Linked DNA regions of Homo sapiens. The protein of the gene in region 2 interacts with the protein of the main gene of each other region in a biochemical or structural test. Each region holds a gene or a part of one and is shown on either strand. Other genes may lie near its edges.

What was found.
Region 1: of the proteins of PRKD1 (region 2) and MARK2, one has a biochemical effect on the other in vitro, tested with the Homo sapiens proteins (one study listed by IntAct).
Region 3: of the proteins of PRKD1 (region 2) and USP28, one has a biochemical effect on the other in vitro, tested with the Homo sapiens proteins (one study listed by BioGRID).

Annotation. Positions count from the first base shown.
Region 1 is NC_000011.10:63,903,586-63,911,692, forward strand, and holds the end of MARK2 (serine/threonine-protein kinase MARK2), read left to right. Parts: intron 1-400; coding exon 401-562; intron 563-1,200; coding exon 1,201-1,458; intron 1,459-2,502; coding exon 2,503-2,529; intron 2,530-4,674; coding exon 4,675-4,719; intron 4,720-5,291; coding exon 5,292-5,652; 3' UTR 5,653-7,435; downstream 7,436-8,107. UniProt on the Homo sapiens protein: Serine/threonine-protein kinase. Involved in cell polarity and microtubule dynamics regulation. Phosphorylates CRTC2/TORC2, DCX, HDAC7, KIF13B, MAP2, MAP4 and RAB11FIP2. Phosphorylates the microtubule-associated protein MAPT/TAU.
Region 2 is NC_000014.9:29,574,736-29,582,300, reverse strand, and holds the end of PRKD1 (serine/threonine-protein kinase D1), read left to right. Parts: intron 1-2,210; exon of another isoform or gene 2,211-2,336; intron 2,337-3,940; coding exon 3,941-4,026; intron 4,027-4,844; coding exon 4,845-5,063; 3' UTR 5,064-5,822; downstream 5,823-7,565.
Region 3 is NC_000011.10:113,801,605-113,810,300, forward strand, and holds part of USP28 (ubiquitin carboxyl-terminal hydrolase 28), read right to left. Parts: intron 7,651-8,696; coding exon 7,459-7,650; intron 6,834-7,458; coding exon 6,694-6,833; intron 6,533-6,693; coding exon 6,347-6,532; intron 4,981-6,346; coding exon 4,885-4,980; intron 3,443-4,884; coding exon 3,264-3,442; intron 3,148-3,263; coding exon 3,069-3,147; intron 2,274-3,068; coding exon 2,194-2,273; intron 1,678-2,193; coding exon 1,554-1,677; intron 75-1,553; coding exon 1-74. UniProt on the Homo sapiens protein: Deubiquitinase involved in DNA damage response checkpoint and MYC proto-oncogene stability. Involved in DNA damage induced apoptosis by specifically deubiquitinating proteins of the DNA damage pathway such as CLSPN.

The DNA.
Region 1 (8,107 bases), on a different chromosome or scaffold from region 2:
CCGCATTTCTTGGTGTTGCATTCCTGGCTCTATCTCTTCTGAGTTTATGAAAGTTTCCCCTCAGCAACACCCCACTCTTTCTGTAGAAGAAACTCTCCTGTTCTTAAAATTCTTAGGAGGCCAGTGCAGCCTGGAGGCAGCGGCCCCTTGTCTGCTCTCCTTCATTTCTGATTCCTCTTCCCAGGCACTGACCCACCTCGCTGCTTCCCGACCTCACTCACCTCCACTTCTCAGCCCCGCATTCCTCAGTTCTGACTTGCATCCCGCTGCTGCCCAGGCCTGACTTCTACCCTGCCAGAGCTCCCCAGCTCTGGCCCTTCCCCTGCCCTTGCTTCCTAATCCAGGCCTCCCGCCCTCACTCACCCCTAACACGGGCCTCTCCGCTGCTTTTGTTTCCTAGCCTAACCATGCCAGGGTCCCGGGCCTCCACGGCTTCTGCTTCTGCCGCAGTCTCTGCGGCCCGGCCCCGCCAGCACCAGAAATCCATGTCGGCCTCCGTGCACCCCAACAAGGCCTCTGGGCTGCCCCCCACGGAGAGTAACTGTGAGGTGCCGCGGCCCAGGCAAGTGTGCTGGGGCAGCTGGTGCACCTGCTGCCCTCAGCCCACCCTACCCCCTTGCCCCAACAATTTCTTCTTCCCACTTGGGGGTCCTGCTGTGTTCTTGTCATCTTAGCCACAAGAAATGGGTCTGTCCCCTGCGGCCAGGAAGTGGAGGGAACAAAAAAGAGCATTAATGCCCCTCTTTTCCAGTTCTCCCTCTCAGAACAGGTATGCAGGAAGCTGTCCTAAGGCTCCAAAGGGAAACCTTTTTGTTCTGAACCTTCCAGGGTTTCCTTAGGGACCCCGGGGATAGTCGGCATCACAGGGACTCAATCCTCAAGGGTTGGTCCCCATTGCCGCCTTGAGGGTCCAGTCTGCCCGGCTCCCAGGGAGCCCGCTGTCTCCAGCCTAAACCACACTCCACACAGGGGTCCTTCCTTGCCTCCCTCCCTCCCTTCCCAAACCATCTCCTTCCACTTCCACGAGACTTCCTTCTCACCACTGTCCTCAGTAGTCACACCCTTCCTTCTGTGTCCTCGTGATGGCTGCCTCTGCCCTAGCATCCCCCTCCCTGTCCCCACCACAGGGTGTCCAGGTGCCCAGTGATGGCTGTCCTGTACCCTAATTCGTCCCCCTCAACCCCACTTCTCTTCCCACAGCACAGCCCCCCAGCGTGTCCCTGTTGCCTCCCCATCCGCCCACAACATCAGCAGCAGTGGTGGAGCCCCAGACCGAACTAACTTCCCCCGGGGTGTGTCCAGCCGAAGCACCTTCCATGCTGGGCAGCTCCGACAGGTGCGGGACCAGCAGAATTTGCCCTACGGTGTGACCCCAGCCTCTCCCTCTGGCCACAGCCAGGGCCGGCGGGGGGCCTCTGGGAGCATCTTCAGCAAGTTCACCTCCAAGTTTGTACGCAGGTAAGCAAGGAGCTTTGGGTGGCAGAGAGGCTCAGGCCAGGCCTTCCTGCTTTACTCGGGGTGGGTTGGGGGTTGGGGGTTGGGGTTTGGGACACTCTGTACCGGTATTGGGTCCTGGGGTTAGAAGAGGCTTCAGGAAGCACAAGAAATTAGGTCTTTGTCAACACCTTATGTGCCCAGGCCCACCCCTCTTAGGCCTCTCCCCAACTCCTCACAGGCACCCCTCATTCTCTGGCCCCAAGCAGATGGCCGATGCCGCCTCCTCTCTAGGAGAGTGTGAACTCAGATGCTAAAATAAAAGCCCCCCCTTCTCTCCTGGGTTCCCATGGAAACTTATATTTGGTGACGCAGCTGCAAAGTCATGAGGCATGAGCCAGGCTGGGGCCAGCAAGGAAAATTTTGTCCTGGTCTCTTGCCCCTTTGACTGCCTCTCCCACTAGTTGGTTCTGTTTCTGGCTGCAGGCGCAGCCATGCCCTTCTGCCCGGGGGTTTTAGGGTGAAACCTATAAATGAAATCACTGGCGAGGGCCTACAGTGGCCTCTTCCCTAACCTAACTCCGATGTGCCAAAGGTTTCCTGTGTTGGACCCAGGGTGGGGATCTCTTCACGGGGTTTCTCACACCTGAGCCCCCAGCCACCACAGAGGTGCAGCTTGAAGTGCATCCAGCCAACTGGCTGGCCTCCTGGGATGCTCCGCATCCCCATCCTGCCATTCCTCTCCCTGCCTTGGAGTAGCAGCTCAGGAAGCAGCAGGGGCTTTGAGAGAACAGGCTCGCCTGCCCTTCCTCTACGTTTCACTCCACTCTGCTGGAGGAGCCAAAGCCACTGCCCCATCCGAGCCCCAGAATGCAAGTGTGAGGCCTGCAGAGAGTGTGGGCAGGTCTGAAAGCCTGGGACTCTAGTCTCGCTGAGCGGCTCTTCCGAAAATGGGATGACCCTTGAACCTGTAAAGCCACCTCCCCCACCTGCTTATCCACATACCGTCTTGTTGGTTTTTTTTTTATTTCTTTTTTTATTTTGTCTTTTTTTTGTTTGTTTTTTTAGAAATCTGTCTTTCAGGTTTGCCAGAAGGTAGGCGTTGAGCCCGCTGTGTGTGTGTGTGTGTGTGTGTGTCTGTGTCCTGTGTCCTGCCTCCATCACTAACTCCCCTTTTCTGGCTCTTACTCTCCTCCATCTGCTTAACCAAGTCTGTGTGGCCCTCCTCTCTCTGCCATCTTAAAGGGATGAAGACTGCCTCTGATTGGGCATCAGCACAAGGCCTGCCCTCCGTGCCCCCAGTACAAACAGGCAGGGCTAAGAGGCCACATTGGCCCACTCAGGGCAAATGGCTTTAAAAATGAGGGCCTTCCTTGGGCCCACAGTTAACGCCTGTCCTCAAGTAAGGGGAGACTGTCTCAGGGAAGCCTCCCTTTAAGATTGTCTCCTCTCACCCACCCCACCCCACCCCCACTCCCTCTCACCCCAGGTTTTGGTCACAAGTGTTGGGATCCTTTCCTGCCCTTTCCCTTGTCATGTGCATGCGCTATGAGGAAGCTCCAGGGTTACAAGTGCATCTGGGATGGTATCTTGTTTGTTGTCTCCTGGGTTTCCTGAACTTCAGAGCTATGTGACCTCTTCCCCGTGGCCTATGGGATCGCAGGACTTTGGAGACACTACGGGGACCCTGGGGCCCCAAGGTTTCAGTCTGGCTCCCCCAGACCTTAGGAGCTTTTGTCTCACAAATGGAGCACAGCACCCCCTCCTGGCAGCTCCTGCAGAACTAGCCCCACCCACCCGCACCCCTGCCCCAGCACCCCTGCCACCAGCAGCATCTGGATAAATCAAGCCTCTTCTCCTCTAGGCTGTTTTCTCCAGATATGGCCTGTCTCTTCCAAAGTGCGGGGAGCTGGGACATTCTAGGGCAACGGCCATTCTACCCCAAGCCGTAGCAAAACAACAGGAGATCTCTGCACCCTTACTCAGGGGTCTCCCTTCACAGTCCCCTTCCTGGCTCTTTCACCCCTGGCCTTATGCTCATCCTCTCTGCAGGCCTCGGGGACCAAATACCAAGCTGAAGACCAAGGGCCAGGTTAAGAGTGCTTGTTCCCCAAGGCTGTCTGCTCAGGCCCTGCATTGGGACTGGGATGCCTGGCAGGCACATTGGTGCCACAGCTGATGGAGGAACGTCCAGACAGGGTCTTCAGGCTTTCCCTATCCCCTCCTCCTCCCACCCAGCTGTTGACTGCATGACTGGCTGCTGCCTCAAGGGGCCCCAGCAGGGGGCTGCCCCACAGGGGGTCTGGAGAGAGCAGGGAGGGTGCCTTCCTCGCACAGCCGGGCTCCCTGCTCGCAGTGCGCTTGTGTGCACCCCTGTGTTGGTTGTGTCTTCCTGTTTATTTCTATGTGCTGCTGCTCTTCCTCCTTCCTCTCATATCCTTCCTCCTCTGCAATCCCCAGTTTCCTAGCTCCAGACACCCATCTTCCAGCCAGGAGCTGGAGAAGCCGCTCAGCGGGGCCAGACCTCTTCCCCACCCACCCAACCAAGGTGTCTGCCCTGCCCTGCCCCACCCCACCCTCATCCTCCCTGCGTATGAGCAGATGGCCTGGCAGGCCAGCAGGTAGGGGAGTTGGGAAAGGTCGGAGGAGGCCGCCTTTTCCACTCAGCAGCAGGAAGCCATCCCCAGGTGCCTACCATGCAGACCCAGGCCTTGGCACTTTGAGTCTCCTGACAGGCCCTTGCGTAGCCACGGCCCCTCCTCCTACAGAGATTCAAAGCATTGCAGCCCCTTTCCTCCAAAAGGACTGCAGTCCTGAGACCCTAGCGTGTGGCTCCAAAAACGCACTCACACCTGCAACCCCCAGAACAGCGCGTGAGCCCTGGCTGTGGGGGAGCAGCCTCGTGCCGGGCCGTGTGCTCAGTGTGCTCAGTGAAGTGCGTGCACAGCCACTCCCCCTCCTCCCCCAGAGCAGAGGCTCCTTCTCCCCGGCACAGATCTGGGAATGTGGGGAGGGACAAGCCCCATGTGCTGGGCTCCCTGCTGGAAAGGAATGGTTGAGCCGCCAGTGTGAGGTGCTGCAGAGCCCTGTTGGCTTGCCAGGTGATGGGCAGAGGGCCCTGGGCTTGGGTCCTGCCCACCCACTGGTGGCACCTCCCCAGACCCACTCTCATCTGGGTCTGTGGCGGCGGAAGGAGCGAGAGATCCCAGCACTAAACTCTCCCTCGCTCTGTTTTTTGAGGAACCTGAATGAACCTGAAAGCAAAGACCGAGTGGAGACGCTCAGGTGAGAGGGCTGGAGCCAGCACTGGCCCTGCCCGGGCCACCGGGCTTGCCACAGCCTCCTGCTCCTCTCTTCCTTCTGCCACTTGGCTCTTCCTCCCGTGGTTCTGCCCTGTCCCTACCCTCTGGGGCCTCCCTTTCCTCAGAGAGTTTCCCCTTCCCAAACCCAATTGCAGGAGTTACGGGCCCTTCTCCTCAGGTCTGGTATATTCTGGAAGTCGGAGTTCTGGGTCGGGTGGTTGGGGCTACAGATTCCTACCCCTGGACTATCCCACCTCCCTGTGCTCGGAGGCTTCTTTCTGGAGAGAGAGTCTGTGCTCGTGCTGTTGAGGGCACTGGTGTCTTCCCTGACCCCACCCCGCCTACCCCAAGGCTGGCTTCTCCTCCCCTTCGCTGTCCTGAGAGATGGGGGTTGGAGGACTGCCACCCTCCGCCCCCGCAGGCCAGGGGCCACGCCTGGCTGCTCCTGCTCCCTCCCGCTCTCCTCTCTGGGCTCAGGGGCTGTCTGCCAGGGTGGCTCTCCTGGGGTGGGGTGCCTCAGCCCCCCCGTGACGCCCGCCTCTGCCCTCTCCACAGACCTCACGTGGTGGGCAGTGGCGGCAACGACAAAGAAAAGGAAGAATTTCGGGAGGCCAAGCCCCGCTCCCTCCGCTTCACGTGGAGTATGAAGACCACGAGCTCCATGGAGCCCAACGAGATGATGCGGGAGATCCGCAAGGTGCTGGACGCGAACAGCTGCCAGAGCGAGCTGCATGAGAAGTACATGCTGCTGTGCATGCACGGCACGCCGGGCCACGAGGACTTCGTGCAGTGGGAGATGGAGGTGTGCAAACTGCCGCGGCTCTCTCTCAACGGGGTTCGATTTAAGCGGATATCGGGCACCTCCATGGCCTTCAAAAACATTGCCTCCAAAATAGCCAACGAGCTGAAGCTTTAACAGGCTGCCAGGAGCGGGGGCGGCGGGGGCGGGCCAGCTGGACGGGCTGCCGGCCGCTGCGCCGCCCCACCTGGGCGAGACTGCAGCGATGGATTGGTGTGTCTCCCCTGCTGGCACTTCTCCCCTCCCTGGCCCTTCTCAGTTTTCTCTTACATGTTTGTGGGGGGTGGGAGATTGTTCTCCAGCACCCCACATTCACCCCTGCCCAGAGATTCCCCCTTCTCCTCTCCCCTACTGGAGGCAAAGGAAGGGGAGGGTGGATGGGGGGGCAGGGCTCCCCCTCGGTACTGCGGTTGCACAGAGTATTTCGCCTAAACCAAGAAATTTTTTATTACCAAAAAGAAAAAAGAAAAAAAAAATCCCAGCGGCCACCTTTCCTCCCTGCCCCATTGGGACAGTCGAGACTGGATCTGTGGGGTTTCCCGGGAGGGTGGCTCAGGGCTGGAACACTCTCAGGCAAGAGTGGTGGAGCTCCCGTCAGGCCCTCCGCCAGGCCCACTGTGGGCTTCTCCCCTCTCCTCCCTCCTTCCCCTCCAAGCAAACCACCAGAGGTGGCCTTCCCCTGACCTCAGGCCCCTGGGCTGGAGGCCTGGGCGGTGGGGCAGGGGGCGGGGGTGCTGCGCAGCCCTGCAGTGGGTGGGGCTGGGGGCTGCTCCGGGGCTGCTGAGGCTGGAGGGCCGGCACAAGGCTCCGCCTCCCTCCACACTGTACCCTCTGCCCCTCCTCCCCAGAGCTGGGCATTTCCTTCCACAAGCTGCTGTGGGGACGTGTGTTCCCTCAAAGTCTGTGCCATCTTCTCCCACCCCTCCCGGGTAGAAGGAGGGGCTGACCCCAGGGCTGGGAGAGGGGAGGGGACTGGAGGGCAGACTGGCTTCTCGGTCCCCAGGGGGCCGCTTGGGCTGTTGGTCTCCAGAGCAGGGCCACTGGGCACTCTGTGATGGGGGAGCCTTTGTCTGAAAGCACAGCCCCCTCGCCCTTCCTCTCCCCATGGCTTCCCCTTCATTGGCATTAATCTGGGCACCAGCTCTCTCCATAGCAGTGACTTCCCTCACCACTCTCATCTCTCAGCCTTGCCTTTTCTTCCTGACACTGTCGCCCCCTCCTCTCAGGAGACACTGCCGAGGGCCACCTGGCAGAAGGCTGAGTTAGGCAGCAGGGCCGGGAGCGTCTGCCCTCCACAGGGTGGGGGACAGATAGGCTAAGCGACTCCCAGCTTGCTACCCTCAGTGGCCAGTGTGGGCGTGGGCGGTTTGGGGCGCTTGGCTGGTGGTGGCCACTGCATCCCTTAATTTATTTCTCTGCTGTTTCTGTTCTTGAGAAATTGGGGGTGGGAGTCCTACACAGAGGCTGCCCCTACCCTCACCTGAGTTGTACATTTTTTTGTGATGGGTTTTATTTTTTATTATTTTATTTTATTTTTTTTTTTTTTGATTTATGATGACTCCACCCCTCTTCATCACCCCCGCTCCCAGGCCAGGCTCAGCGATTAAGCCGAGCCCTTGCGTCCTAGGAAGGGGCCTTGCCAACCTCAGCCCTCCTGCCCCACACTCCTACTGCGGCTCAGACCAAGGGCTCCCCCTCCCTCCCTTCCCCCCTCCTGCCCTATGGAACAGCCCGGGTGCTCTGAGGGGGCTGGGAGGGCATGGCTTGGCTCCCAAAGGGGGTAGGGGCCCGGGGCACCCAGGCAAGGTGGCCCCTCCCCGTCTAGCCCCCTCCTCCCCAACCCTGCACTTAGTTTCTCCTCTGGATCAAACACGTAATAAAGAGAATGTTTGGAATCTGAGCTGCCTCCTCCTGTTTCTTCTCCCAGCCAGGCAGGGACCCAGTCTCCTGTGGGCAAGATGTGGCCTAGCCCACCTGCCTTGCAGGAGAGACTTGATTCCTGTCTGGGGCCAGTGCTGGGTGGGCCCAGCTCCCCACTTACCCACAGGGCACAGACAGGAAGCAAAGCCCAGGGCCCTTGCACCAAAAGGGAAAGAAAACTCAGTAAGCTTAGATTTTATTTTTTTTAATTTTTAAAAAATGTTGAAAAATAAATCCATGTCTGCATAAGTTCCCAACCCCCATTTCTCCAAGTTTCTGGAAGGTGGGCTTGGTGGGCACCCTCAGCTCCTTAGCATTTCCCAGCTGGCCCCTGAAGACAGAGCTTCTCTTCCAGCCTCTGCTGCTGTAAGGCCCCTCTGCCCACCTCCCCCCCTGCAGCCTCCCTCCCCACCTCACCCCAGACTTATTGCTAAAAGAAGGGAAAGAGGAATGAGAACAGCCAGCACACCCAACTGCCCTCTCCCCACTCCACGCTAAGGTCACTACCCCGGACACACAAAGGGCAGGACCCAGAGGCCAAGCCCCAGCAGACTAGGACACAGCCATTCCAGTACCGGCCAGGAAGCGAAAGTGCCCTCAGGCCAGCTCAAAGGCCCCTGAGCCCGGCCATGGCCCCAGGAGACAGGCCCAG
Region 2 (7,565 bases):
ATTCTCAAATTATTCAACAAGAAGCTCAGTATTTATCCTTGACAAAATTCTAGAATGAATGAATGATTAAATAGATGATTTGCAAATATTTAGAAAACAAATCTTGGCCCTGAGAAGAAAATGACTGAAAGTCAGTATTTGTCAATGTTAATTTACTTAAAATGTATTATTCCAGAATAACTGCACTTTTTTTTAAGTAGGATTACCAGATTGGTAGAATGAGTCTTACCAAGAACTGATGTGTCTCAATGATAAAGCATTTGAAAAAAAAAATAGCCTAAAATAGCCTTTGGAGAAGATGGTAAATATGAGCTACATAGGAATACTTCTAGGAGGAAGCACTGCCTGCTTTTAAGACTTGCTCAAAGAATAATTAATAGGCCTGGCAGTTGGTAATGTGTTTTGTGATAGAGTCAGAAAGCCCTATGTTTAGGCCTTATCCTGAAAAAAGTTCTAATAATTGTATTAATACATAGCAGATGGGCTTATTCGGTGTGAGCATGACAGAAAGCTAGGAGAATTAACGATATGAGGCAGAGCTATGGTCACAGAGATGTACATACACATACACACACATCCTTGCGTTCAAGCACATAAAAGTGTGGTGGAAACATAACTAAGAATGTAATTATCATGACTGTAAAAATAAAATGTTAATTTTTGAGATAATTATCCACTTACAATGATAAGTTAATGGCATAATATGGCTGCAGTCTGCCATAGTGTTTAAGAGCACAGGCTTTGAATTCCAGTCCCCCTGGGTTTCAAATTCAGCTGTATTGCCTAGGAGCTGTCTGACTTTGACCAACTTACATGGCCTTTTGAAGCGTCACGTTTTCCTTTTATTAAAATGGAGATTAAAATAATAACTACTTTCAGGGGGTTGTTATAAGGACTAAATAAGAATATGAATGTAATTTTTTAAAAAAGAATGAAAACCCCTCAATCCTAGACTATATGAATAATATATTTGCGTATAATTCAAATTGGCAGTTAGTGAGGAAAATGTTGGTCAGTGATGATCACTGAATTTTAACAGGGACATTGAGTAGAGCTAGTGACTATTAAAATCGAGGTGTACAGGAGGACTAAGCAGGCTGAAAGATCTGAAGGAACTATAGAGGTGAGATTAAGGGGAATGAATCACTGTCTCCAAAGATGTAAAGAACTGTCATATAGAATAAAGTTTTCCATTGCATCTAAAACATAAATAGGACTAATGACAGTAAGTTATAAAAAGAAAACACTTTTTTTTTTTTGCTTTGAGTAGGATATGAATTAAAGGTCAAAGATTCAGAATGGTGTATTGTGTCATGATGTCATCTGTGGTCTGGGGAGGGGCATGCATGTGCCTTTGCAACTAGATTGTGAGCTTTTCGGGGTCAGGGCTTGATCATTAACTTTTTATTTCATAAGTAATTGCCAACAGGAATTAAGGAAGATTTGGTGAATGAACAGATAAATGAATGATTTATACATACATAATACATCTGAGACTATTTTATTACATGAATATTGTATCAATGTAGACATGGCCAGTAAAGAGAATATTGGAAGGAAAAAAGCCTCTAAACTGTGTTCAAAAATGTTTAGTAAAACGCATTTTGGATGGTATAGTTAATGCTGGATTGTATACAACTTGATTAATAAAAAGGATATTTTAAGAGTTCCAGAAAAGTAACAAGCAGAACAGAATTCTCAACTACAAATGACGGACCTATTTTCTCACTAATACCGTGGTCCCAACATTTAGCTATAGGTGCTAACATTTAATAGTTCATTATTTCTGTTGTGTGCTTCCAAAAGCCACAAAATGTATGTATACACACACACACACATTTATTTATACATACACGTTTCTCCTCTAATTCTCTCCTTATATCCTTAACCATTTTCTCTTGGAAGTAGTTGCCATTGCCTTGTTGTGCTTACTCAGGTCACTTGGGTTGGGTACTGTGGCGTAGTCAGACTAATGATTGTATGCTTCATTCAGCAGAACAATTTTTTCATTTTTACTTATTCCATTCCCTTCAGACACTTCTAGTTTCCCCTCTGATAGTACTTCCCTCCCCATTATGCAGTGTGGTTCACTGTTGGGGCCCATTTGGGCACAAACGAGACCTTTTGTTGAGTTACTGTACTCCTGCCTTTCTAATTACAGAATTCCAAACAGAATGAGTGAATTAATGACATGAATTTATTTCCTGCAGTGTCTAGGGCAGTGTAATGCTGCAGCAAGCTTGCAATAGCACATAAGCTCTCCCTTCACTCCTTGTCCTCCATTTTTGCCGGGTGACTTCACAGCAGCAAGAATGGAAGGTGCACTTTACTCACCAGTGAGTAAATCATGTGAATGGATATTTTAAAGCACATGCCCTATACGCAGTTCACAGAACTATACTTTTAAAAGCTCTCTGAGAACACATGCTTGGAATATGAAAATGTACTGAGTACTGTATTTCTTCAGGTATCCTAGGTAAGGCAAGAGTGTATAGGCATAGGCAACATTTAAATGTGTGTTGTTGCATTTCATTTCTCCAAATAATTGTTTGATATTTGACTCTACAGCCCTTCAGGGCAGGCAAATACTTGTAACATTAGCTCCATAGAGATATGGTTCTCAATTACCAAAAGACTGTAGAAGTCACTTTTCTTTGCCTGACACTGGGAAGGATTCTGATTGAAGGAAGCAGTCTTTGTTCCTCTGGTCTCATGTGACAGTCTGTATCTTCAGGTCCATACAGGTTGATGCACACCAAAAAGTGGATTCAAAGCTGCCTATTCAAGACTTGGTGATAGGGAAAGATGAGGAGTTAATTTTCATTTTCGTTTATCAGCTGCCTGTTTGATTAAGATTTTTGGTAGGAAGAGCCATCTTTCAGACATAATGCCTAGGGTAGGTTAAGGGCAAAAATTAACTCTTTGAAATATAAATGCTTCCTATTAGGTTGGCAGATTTCACTAAGCTCTTTTTGGGAAGAAAATGCTAAAATTCAAAAAGAGAAACATGGAAGTTATTACAAGAATGAGAAGTGTGAGGGAATGACTTTAATAAATAATGAACTATTAATGACGTATACTGAAAATATAATGTCCAGAAAAGGAGAGTGAGAACTCCATCACATGATACTGTGGGTAACTAGGATGATTTTCAGACTAGATAACGATGAGTATTACTTTTTCTTCATAAATTACACTCACAGACTCCCCAGTCACAAGCAGAGTACTAGGCCAGAGGGATTGTGGTTCTAACCCCTCAGAGAACATTTCTTGTTAAATAGACTTCTTTCCTGTCTTCCTCTAGAAAGTCTATGAAGGCTGATATAATTCCAATACATTGGTTATTTTTGAAAGCAAAAGCAAAGTGAAAGCAATTAAAGTGTTTTCTTCTTGGGCTGTTGGTTTTCAGGCTCCAAGTTTATCATGAGATATGACCCATGTTATGATGCATTTTTTCCATACAAATATGATGTTCAGATATCTGTCATTTAATTCAATACTGTGTGAACCATTGTGTGTATTCAAACGTTCAGCATGTTTTATAACAAAATTAGTAAATGCTTTATCTTGAATATTAGTTTTATCCTGCCCATATTGTAAGACATATTTAAATGATGTACATATAAACAAAATTTCTAAATTAAAGAAAGTGTTAAAGAGTAGACCAATTGAAATTCATATCATACAATAGACTCTAATACTTCTTCCATAATTACTTCCAACTTCTTCTTTTTTTTTTTTTTTTTTTTTTTTTTTTAGTATCCAAAATAAAATGAAGGCCAAAGTTTCAGTATTCTTAAGAGGATTTTTTTTTTTGGTTCTAGTGCCTTGTCACTATGCTGCATTTAACTGTGTGAAATAGCAGATGTGAAATAAACTATAAATGAATTATGCATATGTTACAGATTTGTCATCTATTTTTACTGGTAATTTTTTTCAGCCATTGATCTTATCAACAATTTGCTGCAAGTAAAAATGAGAAAGCGCTACAGTGTGGATAAGACCTTGAGCCACCCTTGGCTACAGGTAAACAATAATCACTGAGTTTTCTTAGTTGAATGAGCTTCTAAATATTTATAGGATTTTGATATTTAGAAATCTTTTGCAATAATTTTTAAAGTGTGATTATTCTAATATCAATTTATTTGCTCAAATGCATGCAACTTCATAGGATTTAATAACAATTTAGTGTTTCTAAACATTTTTCTCTACCAGGATAATTTGATAGAAGAGATACACGCACGCATATACACACACACACACAGCCCAAAACCAAAAGGCAAAACCAAAAATAAATAAATAAACCAAGGATCATAACAGACCTCAGAGGACCAGATTTCAAAAGCATCTGTATGTGTAATCCTGATAAATGTACAAATAGATGCCCATCTGGTCATGCACTGTACTCATTTAGAAGCTATATTTTTAAATGCTAGGTTATTATATATGGAACAAATGCATGGCAAATACAAAGTATATGGATGTGCTTTATTATTTTCACATCGAATTTAAACTTTAGGAAACTAATACTCTGAAATACTGAAAGATTATTTGTAGGCATTAAATTTCAAAGGAATACTGGCATTCCTGATTGCTTGACTGCAAACATTAATTGCCCACTCTTTGATCCATGCTATCTTATAAACAGTATGTATTTGCAAAGGTTAGACAAATAGGATGGCTTTGGTGCCGACACTGTCACTTGAGGATGCGTGATGAAAGATTCAGCGCTGTTAGAGTGGAAGGAGAAGGGTAACTCATAGATTGCAGAAACTGACATCATATGAAACAGTATGTTGAGTTGTAATGATCTCTATGGTAATATTTTGGAATTTCTTCTTCAGGACTATCAGACCTGGTTAGATTTGCGAGAGCTGGAATGCAAAATCGGGGAGCGCTACATCACCCATGAAAGTGATGACCTGAGGTGGGAGAAGTATGCAGGCGAGCAGGGGCTGCAGTACCCCACACACCTGATCAATCCAAGTGCTAGCCACAGTGACACTCCTGAGACTGAAGAAACAGAAATGAAAGCCCTCGGTGAGCGTGTCAGCATCCTCTGAGTTCCATCTCCTATAATCTGTCAAAACACTGTGGAACTAATAAATACATACGGTCAGGTTTAACATTTGCCTTGCAGAACTGCCATTATTTTCTGTCAGATGAGAACAAAGCTGTTAAACTGTTAGCACTGTTGATGTATCTGAGTTGCCAAGACAAATCAACAGAAGCATTTGTATTTTGTGTGACCAACTGTGTTGTATTAACAAAAGTTCCCTGAAACACGAAACTTGTTATTGTGAATGATTCATGTTATATTTAATGCATTAAACCTGTCTCCACTGTGCCTTTGCAAATCAGTGTTTTTCTTACTGGAGCTTCATTTTGGTAAGAGACAGAATGTATCTGTGAAGTAGTTCTGTTTGGTGTGTCCCATTGGTGTTGTCATTGTAAACAAACTCTTGAAGAGTCGATTATTTCCAGTGTTCTATGAACAACTCCAAAACCCATGTGGGAAAAAAATGAATGAGGAGGGTAGGGAATAAAATCCTAAGACACAAATGCATGAACAAGTTTTAATGTATAGTTTTGAATCCTTTGCCTGCCTGGTGTGCCTCAGTATATTTAAACTCAAGACAATGCACCTAGCTGTGCAAGACCTAGTGCTCTTAAGCCTAAATGCCTTAGAAATGTAAACTGCCATATATAACAGATACATTTCCCTCTTTCTTATAATACTCTGTTGTACTATGGAAAATCAGCTGCTCAGCAACCTTTCACCTTTGTGTATTTTTCAATAATAAAAAATATTCTTGTCAAAATATGTGTCCACCTCATTGAACTATTTTCATTCATCGTTCACACTAGGGTTTTCAGGCCAACTAGGAGCAGAAGTGTCTGCTCAAAAAGCAGGAAAAAAGCTCATAGTGTAGAATGTAGTTTTATCTACTCTGAAGCAGTAAAAGTATGTTTCAAAGTGGAGTGAGGCCTTCCTGTCTTGCATGTGGTTTAATTTCTAATAGAAAGGAAGGCTTTCAAAGTGAAAAGTGACCAAAGCCAAACAGAGTGCTTGGAGGCATAGTTAGGATGACTCTGAGTAGTTGGAATATTGCAAATAGCATCTTAATGTAGCTTCCTGATTTAGTCAATATAAGCTAGAGATTTATTAGAATACCAGATCTGGTTTCTTTTCATATGATCTAAAGATGGTTCTGAGGTGAACCAAAAAATACTAGAAAGTAATCCCTAAACAGAAAGGCATCTCAAGTGAAGTTCTACAGCCTGGAGAAGACAAATTGGACCTAGCAGATTTGAGGTATATAATATGAATAATGTGGGCTGTTTTCCTTAGTAGCAGGATGGGAATAGCATACTATGTAACAGAAAAAAAATTGTAATTAATGTTTGGAAGAATGTTACAAGAGTTGTGGAACACTTGAGTATATTAGATAAGTATGTTAAGACTGTACTCTTTCCACTTGGAGGAATGAGGGGACAATAGATAATCTTTCCAATTATTAGTCTCTGTTTTGTATTACTATTGAACTTTAACAAGTATAAAAATTTTAAAGTTCCTTCATCTGCTTTTCTCTAGGGGTAGGGTGTGTGTGTGTGCGTGTGCTCATGCATGCACAAGTGAATTTGCATACACAAGCATACATGTACCACCAACTTGAAAGAATAGAATGTAAATCAGTAAGACAATAACTCTCTCGCCAACCTAGGAATATAACTGACACCTTTTCTATGATACCTTTTCTAAGCAATTTCAGGAAAATGGAAAAGGAGTGGAAGCATATAAAGTTTTTCCCTCTTAATATGTGCGTAATATAAATTAGAGGCTTATTGTTTGAATTATGATAATTTATATAGTTTATATGCCTATGTTTTATCAGCTGCAGTATAAAATGTAATCAATAACTTTTCTTGCTTGATATGGGATTCTAAAAAGATTATAGGAAAAGAAACTATGATAATATTATCCATATAGTATAAAATATCCTAGAGTCCTTGATTGGCAAGAGTAACCAAATATTACTGTACATTATAAAACCACACAGAAGTTGATTATCCATGCAGCAAAAAATTATTTCACATCTGTTCTACACAGCTCTTTGCTAGATTCTAAGATTTTGTAATGTGAATAAGACATGGTCCCTGCACAAAATAAATTTATTATATAGAAGTGAATAAACAAATTTGGTGCTTTTAGAAAATAAGATGTAAAGGTATAAAGCATCAAGGAGAACAGTTAATAATGGAGAAAGAAAGCAACAGAATGATGTTTGAGCAGAGCTAGAAAAAATCATAGGAATATACCTGGCTGAAAGTAGGAGAAAACAGCATGAACGAAGACATGAAGGTCCAAAGAGGACTGTTAGAAAGACAAAAGTACTTCTTTATAACAGAAGAATAAAAGTAAGGAAGAACTGAAGAAGTCCATCCAGTAGAAATGGGTGATGATCTTGGTCTGGAGGCCCTTGTGTGTTATTCTGGGTATTCGGGATTTATTCTGTGTAAATCCCAGGAAACCAACATTGTTTAAGCTGAAAGGAAGGATTAAT
Region 3 (8,696 bases), on a different chromosome or scaffold from region 2:
ATCACATTAATGCCCTCAGTTACGGAGTGATCATCATTTGTTTCAAAAAGAGAAGCTGCTTTGGCATTCAGCTCCTACAGATAAAAGGTAGAATTAGGTGGGGAAGAGTCTGAAAAAGATAAATATCTCTTTAATAACAGTCTAAACAAGTGGTTCCCAAACTTTACTGCACATTGGATGTACTTAGGGATCTTTAAAAACTACTGATGCCTGGTTCCCACTTCTGATAAGCTGATTTAATTAGTGTTTAGATGACCGGGACACTGGGATTTTATGAAAGCTCCCAAAGTGATTCTAATGCTGTAAAGTTTATGACCCATTGGCCTAAACTTGTAAGTCAAGGTCATGCTTAACACCTGTTTCAACCAAAGACCTGTTCACTGGTTGTCTATCTCCTCTGAGCATCAGAATCACCTGCAGAAGACACACTGATGCCCAGGGCCCTTCCCAGGGATTCTGGTTTAATTGCTAGGGAGAGGCCTGAGCTTCACGACTGTCTGAAAGCTCCCTATATGATTCTGATGCACACTAGGGGTTGGGACTCAATAATGGAAAGAGTCTAAATCCCTATAATTGCATTACTTCAGAAGCTGAGTAGGATATTCAAAATGTCAATCTATTTGGTGATTTAAAATATAAAAACATGGCTCTAATAAAATTCAGATCCATCAAACCAACAAGATCCCTTTTCAGCTTCAAAGTGGCCCTGCCACACCTATAACTAATACAGATGTCAAAGTATAAATCAGAAAATAAAGCTATTGAGTATATGTCATGACTTAATCTCACCCATTCGGTATGAACAAGGTAAAGGCAGTGGTAGAAATATTGGCCTGACTTCTGTGAAGGGCAAATTTGCTGGGTATTGGTGAAAACACACACAAGCCCACACTCTGAAGGCAGGCCACCCCTTTACAGTTCTCCAAAGGACACACATCACATAAACCCCTGGGGAGGCAAGGGGATGTAGGTCTGCCTTTCCATGTAGTTATACAGTGCAAATCAGGCCAGGAGAGAGTTAGTCTTCACTAGTATGTGACAATGATGTTATCAGAACAGCAGGACCAATTCTTACAGTTCCTACCTTTATTTTAAAAAAATGGAGTGTCAGAAGTCACTAAAACTTTAAGTCTACCAGCTTAAATGTGAACATGGAAAAAATGCTGCATTCCTTCCACACACATTTATTACATGGTTCCTACATGACAGGCACAGAGGAAATGGCTGAGTGAGAAAAGGATCTGAGCTCAAGGAATTTACAACCTAGTAGGAAAGCAATGTGATAAAATCTATAATGCAGGCATACATGAAGGGCACACAGAGGGATGACTGATTCTCATCTTAACTTCTATCAGTTATCATTGAAGAAGAATGACATTCACTAAAAGTAACTGAAAAAAAACCTGTTCCAATGTAAAACTGTTCATGAGAATTTTGGGGGGAAATCTACAACCTGTTGGAGATAGTCTGTTTTGAAAGCCATATATTTTCCTGGCTTCAAGGAGCAGAGGTAAACAACAAAAAAACCTTAAGGCTTTACAAACAGTACAAACCAGAAGGCATTTTCTTCGGTATAAAGCAATCACGGATTCTTTGACCCCCCGGCGGGGCCCCTTCATCAGCAGGGCAGCATTGCTCTGGTAGGCATATACCAGGTAGGAAAGTGCCTCTTGGTACCTTAGAAAAATGGGAGATAAACAACAGCTGAGTGCTCTTTTACTAAAATCTAGGGCTTAGACCTCACTTTTCCCCATTTCAAGAACCTACTTGGCTGCAATTCTGAAAAAGTGAAGGACCAAAGACCGTAGCCAGTCTCATCTCTTCTACAAATTGGCCTAGCCATCCAAAGCAAATATGAAACTTCCCTAGGCCTCAGGTTTTCCCATCTCTAAAACAAGAAATGCTCACTAGGGTCTATGTCAACTCAAAAATTCATTTTCTGAGTTCATCTTCATTGATCACAAAGACAGCCTGGCACAATATTATCTCGCAGCTAATACATCTAATCATTTGAAGGATGAAAAACCATGTGTGATGTTTAGAGCAAAACCAAAGCACTGCAAGAGAAGAGGCACACTAGTGTATGTGACAAGGGAGGTTATGCATGGCTGTGACTCTTAGTATTCCCAGGTAGGCATCTACAGAGAACAGCATCCTGACTAATAATCTTGGTAAAATAAAAGGCCAACATACTTTCCTTTTTGATAGAGTTCTAGGCCTGTTAGGAGATACACAGACACTTTTCGGAACAAACTATAATCTTCATGCCACTTCTGAAAAAGAATGACGATTATTAATAATCATGATCATAATAGATTGTTAGTGTCCTTCCCATCTAAGTTTTAAATTCATTACAAATATTTACTGAGCACATCTGGCTAGCCACAAAAATAACAAACAAAAGCTTTCAGATAAAAACCTACTCAACATTTAAAATAAAAGTCTACCACTGACCTTAATTTTCAATGTTCTGTTCCTTTCACTTGAGTAACAGAAGTACTTATTTCCTACGAGCTTCGGATTTTATCCTAATTTCTAACAGCTATGTAAAAGATATTCAGCTCTAGCTTAAGTGAATGACCTCTTTAGGACTGGTAAAACCATCCAGATATTGAAAATATGGAAGGACACGGACATTTCTAGTCATACAGAGCAAGTTCAAGTTCAGTAAGTGTGGTGAATACACCTTGGGTGGTACATAACATTGTTTTACATGGGATGCAATTGAAAACATGTGTAGCTATGTATTTTAATGCGTATTTTTAAAACTTTATCATTTAAAACAAACCAAAAGCATGATTTCAAGAATTTTACTGCCTAGGACAAGGCTAAAATAGGTATTTAAGGGAAGTGAAATGTTGACTCACTCTAAATGAAGAATGAAAATAAAGAGACCTGCTATTCTGAGGGCAAGAAAATATCATTTATCCATTCTTTACCAGGATTTTGAGGGGAAAGTGGAAGAACAAGTCAGTTTGTAATAGCACAAAATTGTTTATTTTGCCTCAGGTACCATTTACCTCAGGAATTAATGTTTTTGCTCTATAGACTTAAAGAAAACACTTTACCTTGTACTCTTCCATATTCATGTCATCTGGACCAATTTCCTTCAGTTTCGCTTGAGCCACCTTCATAATGCTGATTGATCTGTGTGGGACAAAGTTCAGAAAGCAATGAAAAGGCACAGGGCAAAACTTCCCCAACAGAGGAGTCCATCTAGCCCAACCCAGACCAAGGGATTCACCTGAATATTCTCTTCTCACCTTTCATCATAGCTAAGATTTTTATCTGCAAACTGTTCCAGAAGGGTTCGTTCTACTACCCTTTTGGGTGCTTCATTTTGGAAAAAGTAGACAAGGACATGCTGAAGTCGAGGATCACTGTGAGAGGTGGGGGTCTCTTTGGCAAGCTGATAGAGCCTGGAGTATTCTTCATGGAATGCCTATTAAGGGCAGAATCAATGGTTAGAAAATAGTGTGCTGTGGGCTTCTGCACACAGAAATTGATGCCTAGGAGCTAGGCAGTCTCTTGACTCTAAAAAGACTTCTAAAAAATTCATATCGAATTACAAAAACAACTATGGAATTTTTAAGTTTCTTGCATTTCATAAGGGATGAAACTCTTTTAGCATTCTGGCACCAAAAACATACTGTACTTTTTTTTTTTTTTGAGACAGAGTATCACTTTGTCACCCAGGCTGGAGTTCAGTGACATGATCACAGCTCACTGCAGCCCTGAACTCCTGGGCTCAGGTGATCCTCCCACCTCAGCCTCCCAAGTAGCTGGGACTACAGGCATATACCACCATGCCCAGTTAATTTTTGTATTTTTGATAGAGATTGGGTTTCGCCATGTTGCCCAGGCTGGTCTCAAACTCCTGAGCTCAAGCAATCCACCCACTTTGGCCTCCCAAAGTGCTGGGATTACAGGCATGAGCCACTGCGCCCAGCCTACTGTACTCTTAAGAAATTCAGTTTTCTCATAAAGTTCTCAGAAAAACAAATATTTAGTTTTAATTGTTATAAAAGGCAGATCCTTGTGTGTCAATGACTTAAACTTAAAGAATCTATACAAATGCAATTTTACTCAAGTATTTTTAAAAACACAGCCTACTTTGTTATGGCCTCAAAATTACAAAGGCACAATCTAACTCAGTGTTACTAACAGACAACTCCTAACAACAACAATGAAAAGCCCTCTAGGCTAGGTGTCACAGAGAATGTTACTGCTAGCCAAGGCTGGGTTAGGGTCAAGAGAAGAGAAGTGAACAGCTTGTTCATCAGTTGGACAGGAAAGGAAGTCTCATATTTCACTTCACAGAAGACTTTTTTTTTATTTTTTGGAGACAGGGTCTCACTCTGTCACCCAGACTGGAATGCAGTGGCACAATCATGGTTCACTGCAACCTTGAACACCTGGGCTCAAGTGATCCTCCTGCCTCAGCCTCCAAATTAGCTGGGACTACAGGTATGTGCTACCATGCCCAGCTAATTAAAAAAAAAAAAAATTCCTTAGTAGAGATGGGGGTCTCACTATGTTGACCCGGCTGGTTTTGAACTCCTGGCTTCAAGCAAGCCTCCCTCCTGGGCCTCCCAAAGTGCTAAATTACAGGTGTGAGCCACTGTGCCCAGTCCTTTTTATTTTTAAAGAGATGGGATCTCATTATGTTGCCCAGGCTGGAGTGCAGTGGTGCAATCACAGTACATTTCAGCCTCCAACTCCTGAGCTCAAGTGAGCCTCTACTTCAGCTTCCTGAGTAGCTGGGACTACATGCACACACCACCACACCCAGCCTTAACCCCATTTTTTCCCTTCTTATAGAATTATTTCCCCAATATTATGATGCCTATATTGTAAGAATTAGAATTTTAAAAACAGAGATACCTTAATCAGCCCTGCTTCAGACCCATCTCGGTCAAAGGTCTGACGGGCTTTAGCTATGGCCAGGATGACCCCTTGCATGGCAGGGCTCAGCATCACCTACCACAAGGGGGCACAAAACACAGAGAGAAAGGAGAGAAGAAAGGTTCAGCAGAAGACTGTATGAAAGCAGGCTGAACAGAGTGCTAAAGGGCAGCAGAGCAGTGTGCTCTTTGGCCAGCATGTATTGCAAGCTGAGTTTCACACACCCATTCCTATGTGCACCCACTGCCTCTGTCCTTCTATATAATGTCAACACCCTGCCCAAGACAAGCTATTCCTACGCTCTATGTTCTAATTCAGTAGGATAAAGAAAGATGTATGCCTAAAAATATCTCCCAATATGGCACTGCTGAAGAATTAAGTTAAATTATAGTTCTCAGAGGGGAAGTGTCTAAGGTCAGAATTCCAATTTAGTTCTGTACTTTGGGTGTATATCTTAAACACACAAATACTTTAGAGTTTTACTAGGATAAACAGTACATTTAAAATAGTCTGGAAACTAGCGACTATACAAATATGACTCCATAAAGTAAAAACTTTTCAAGGACTTTTTTTTTTTTTGGGAGACAGAGTCTCGCTCTGTCGCCCAGGCTGGAGTGCAATGGCGTGATCTCAGCTCACTGCAACCTCCGCCTCCCGGGTTCAAGCGGTTCTCCTGCCTCAGCCTCCCAAGTAGCTGGGATTATAGGTGTATGCCACCATGCCCAGCTAATTTTTGTATTTTTAGTAGAGACAGGGGTTTCACCATGTTGGCCAGGCTGGTCTTGAACTCCCGACCCGAGGTGATCCACCCGCCTTGGCCTCCCAAAGGGCTGGGATTATAGGCGTAAACCTCCGTGCCCAGCCTTGTCAATGATTTTTTTTTTTAAATACCCCACAGAAAAAAAACAGAAATCTGAGAGAGACAGAATTCATTATTGTTTATGTGCAGTGCAACTGAAGAGGAGACAGACAACAAACAACTTGGGGTTCTATAGCTTCTTCCTATAGAATTCCTTTACAATTAAAAATAACTTCAATCCACATTTGTTTAGCTCACTGGACAACTGAAAAATTTATATCTGGAGGTAAAACAATGGACTAATATCCAAAAAAAAGATTCCCTATTTTAAATTAGAAGGCAATCTTTTGTCCATAATACCAAAAAGGGAACTTAATTTTACTTTTCTGAGCCATCTAGACTCTGCAGTGGCCCCATTAAGTATAAGCCTGGGTAGATATACATATGCTGGGAGCGCTATACAATAGAAACATGGCTATCTTTTAAATAATGGTAACTAAGGTCAAAACCAAATAGGCTTTCTTGACAATCATTTTTTGCAACGAGAAAATATCAGCTATTGGCAGATACCTTAATATAGTCACAAGAGAAGGAAATATAAGACTGACAACAAACAACTATATCCTGCACTCATCTCTGTACCTCCTCATCATATCCATCTGCATCAGATCTAACCAGAATCCTTCCCACACTGGGAATCTCGACTTCAGAGACCTCAGAATTAGGCTGGGCAGTAGACTCTGCATCATTAGCCTTTGGGGGCTGTTCTGACTGCTCTGCAAGGTTTGTTTCCTGGGGCATGGGCTTCTTGGGTTCAGCTTCTTTAAGCTGTGGCAGCAGAGTGGGGAGAAAGAGTAAGAAAAAACAGGAGAAATAAATAGGGGTTGGTTAAAGGCAGCAGAGACACAGAATAATAGAAATGTGAGAAAACTGGCCATCGCTGCTGAAAGCCCGGCTCTCCTGAACTTGGGCTTCCCAGTCATTCTCACCTCACTCAGTGCCGCTTCTACACCGCTCTTCTCATAGGCACGGGCTGTGTTTGCAATAGCCTGGGCAGTTTGCTCCTTTACAATCACAGCATGCTCAGACGACAAGCAGCGAACCCCATGAGAAGAGGCTACTGAAGGCTCTGATAAAGAATTGAACAAAGGTCTTAGCATCTAATGATAAATAGTCTAGAACACTCAGATAAAAAGCAAGCAGAATGTATACAGTTTAATATACAACCCTGTTAACACAGCTTTTTACAAAAGCCTATGCAGATTTTCCCTAGAAATTAATAACTATAAGAAATGGCTACTTCAGCAAGAACTCTATTGATAAAGTCTGTAAACTTTGAACCCACAGATGATTCTGTAAAATTTAATGCACTCCCAACTTTGTCATATTTCTATCCATTAAGAAAACTTTCTACAAACAAGCATCTTTTAGGAAGATCACCTTTGGAGAATGGTTTTCATAAAGTCTACCTATTAACCCTATCATAGTTTCTCCCATAACCTGGGAAATAAGCAAAACTATATACACAGTGAAGGTCACAGGTAGTTAGTCTTTCTGATACTGCTTCTGTTCATCAGAAATCACATTCTAATGCCACAATTCATTCCATCAGGTTGTACCTGGCATACCAACTGTATATGAAATATACTGTGAAGACTGTGGCATCACCTAGCCAGCTGAAGGGTATAGGGCTGGCTAGGGGAGTACAGCATGAGATGTTACTGGATCACTGGCATAAATGCCTTCTCAGATACCTTGTGATGTAGAGTAGTCCTGTGATGAGGAGTTGGTGGAGGACTCCATTTGAGGGATTTTGCAAGACTGCTCTTCTTCCCACTCCTCTACTTCCTGCTCAAACCGCCAGTTATCCTCCTGAATGTAATGCTTGAGTTCCACAGATAGGGCTTCCACTTCTGACATTTGATCTGATTCAGTTGGGGCTGCCTCTGAGGAAAAGCAAAGATAGAGTTAAAAGGTCACAAGGAACGAAAACATCCTTTTTAGAAAAGAAGAAAGCAGGGTATTTCATCTTTATCTTACTCCTAACTAAAAATACATGCACATAGAATCCATCAGAAATGCAGGCTGAGTATCTCTTATCCAAAATGATTGGGACTAGAACTGTTTTGGACTTCAAATTTTTTTCATATTTTAGAAAATCTGCACAATTAGTTATAGTTGAGCATCCCAAATCCTAAAATCCAACATCTGAAATTCAAAATGCTCCAATGAGCATTCCCTTCCAGCATCATGTAATGAAAAAGGCTCATAAAGTTTTGTGGATTTTGGAGCATTTGGGATTTTGGATATTCACATGTGGGATGCTCAACCTGTATGGACAATGTAAGGGCAACAATTGATAACAGTGCCTGACATTTAGTAGGCACTCATTAAACATCTGCTAAGTGAATGAATAACACAGAGTTAAAGATATGGAAAGTGGGCCGGGTGCAGTGGCTCACGCCTGTAATCCCAGCACTTTGGGAGGCCAAGGCAGGCCAATCACTTGAGGTAGGAGTTCAAGACCAGCCTGGCCAACATGGTGAAACCCTGTCTCTACTAAAAAAAATACAAAAATTAGTCAAGCGTGGTGGCGCATGCCTGTAATCCCAGCTACTTAGAAGGCTGAAGTGGGAGAATCGCTTGAACCTGGGAGGAGGAGGTTGCAGTAAGCTGAGGTTGCGCCACTGCGCTCCAGCCTGGGAGACAGAGTGAGACTCCATCTCAAAAAAAAAAAAAAAAAAAAAAAGATTTGGAAACTGGTCACTGTCAATCACTGGATATACCAATCATTTCAGGGAAATTCAGAAAATCATTAGAGCCAATAAAAATTTCAAGATAAACAGTTTTATCCATTTAACCACTGCATTTGGCGGATAAGAATGTCCATTTCAAAAAGGTTAGAGATGAATTTCAAGACATTTATACCACCAACTTTCATACAATTCAGTACTATGAGAAAGCAATTTGATACAATGGTGAAATGGTCAAT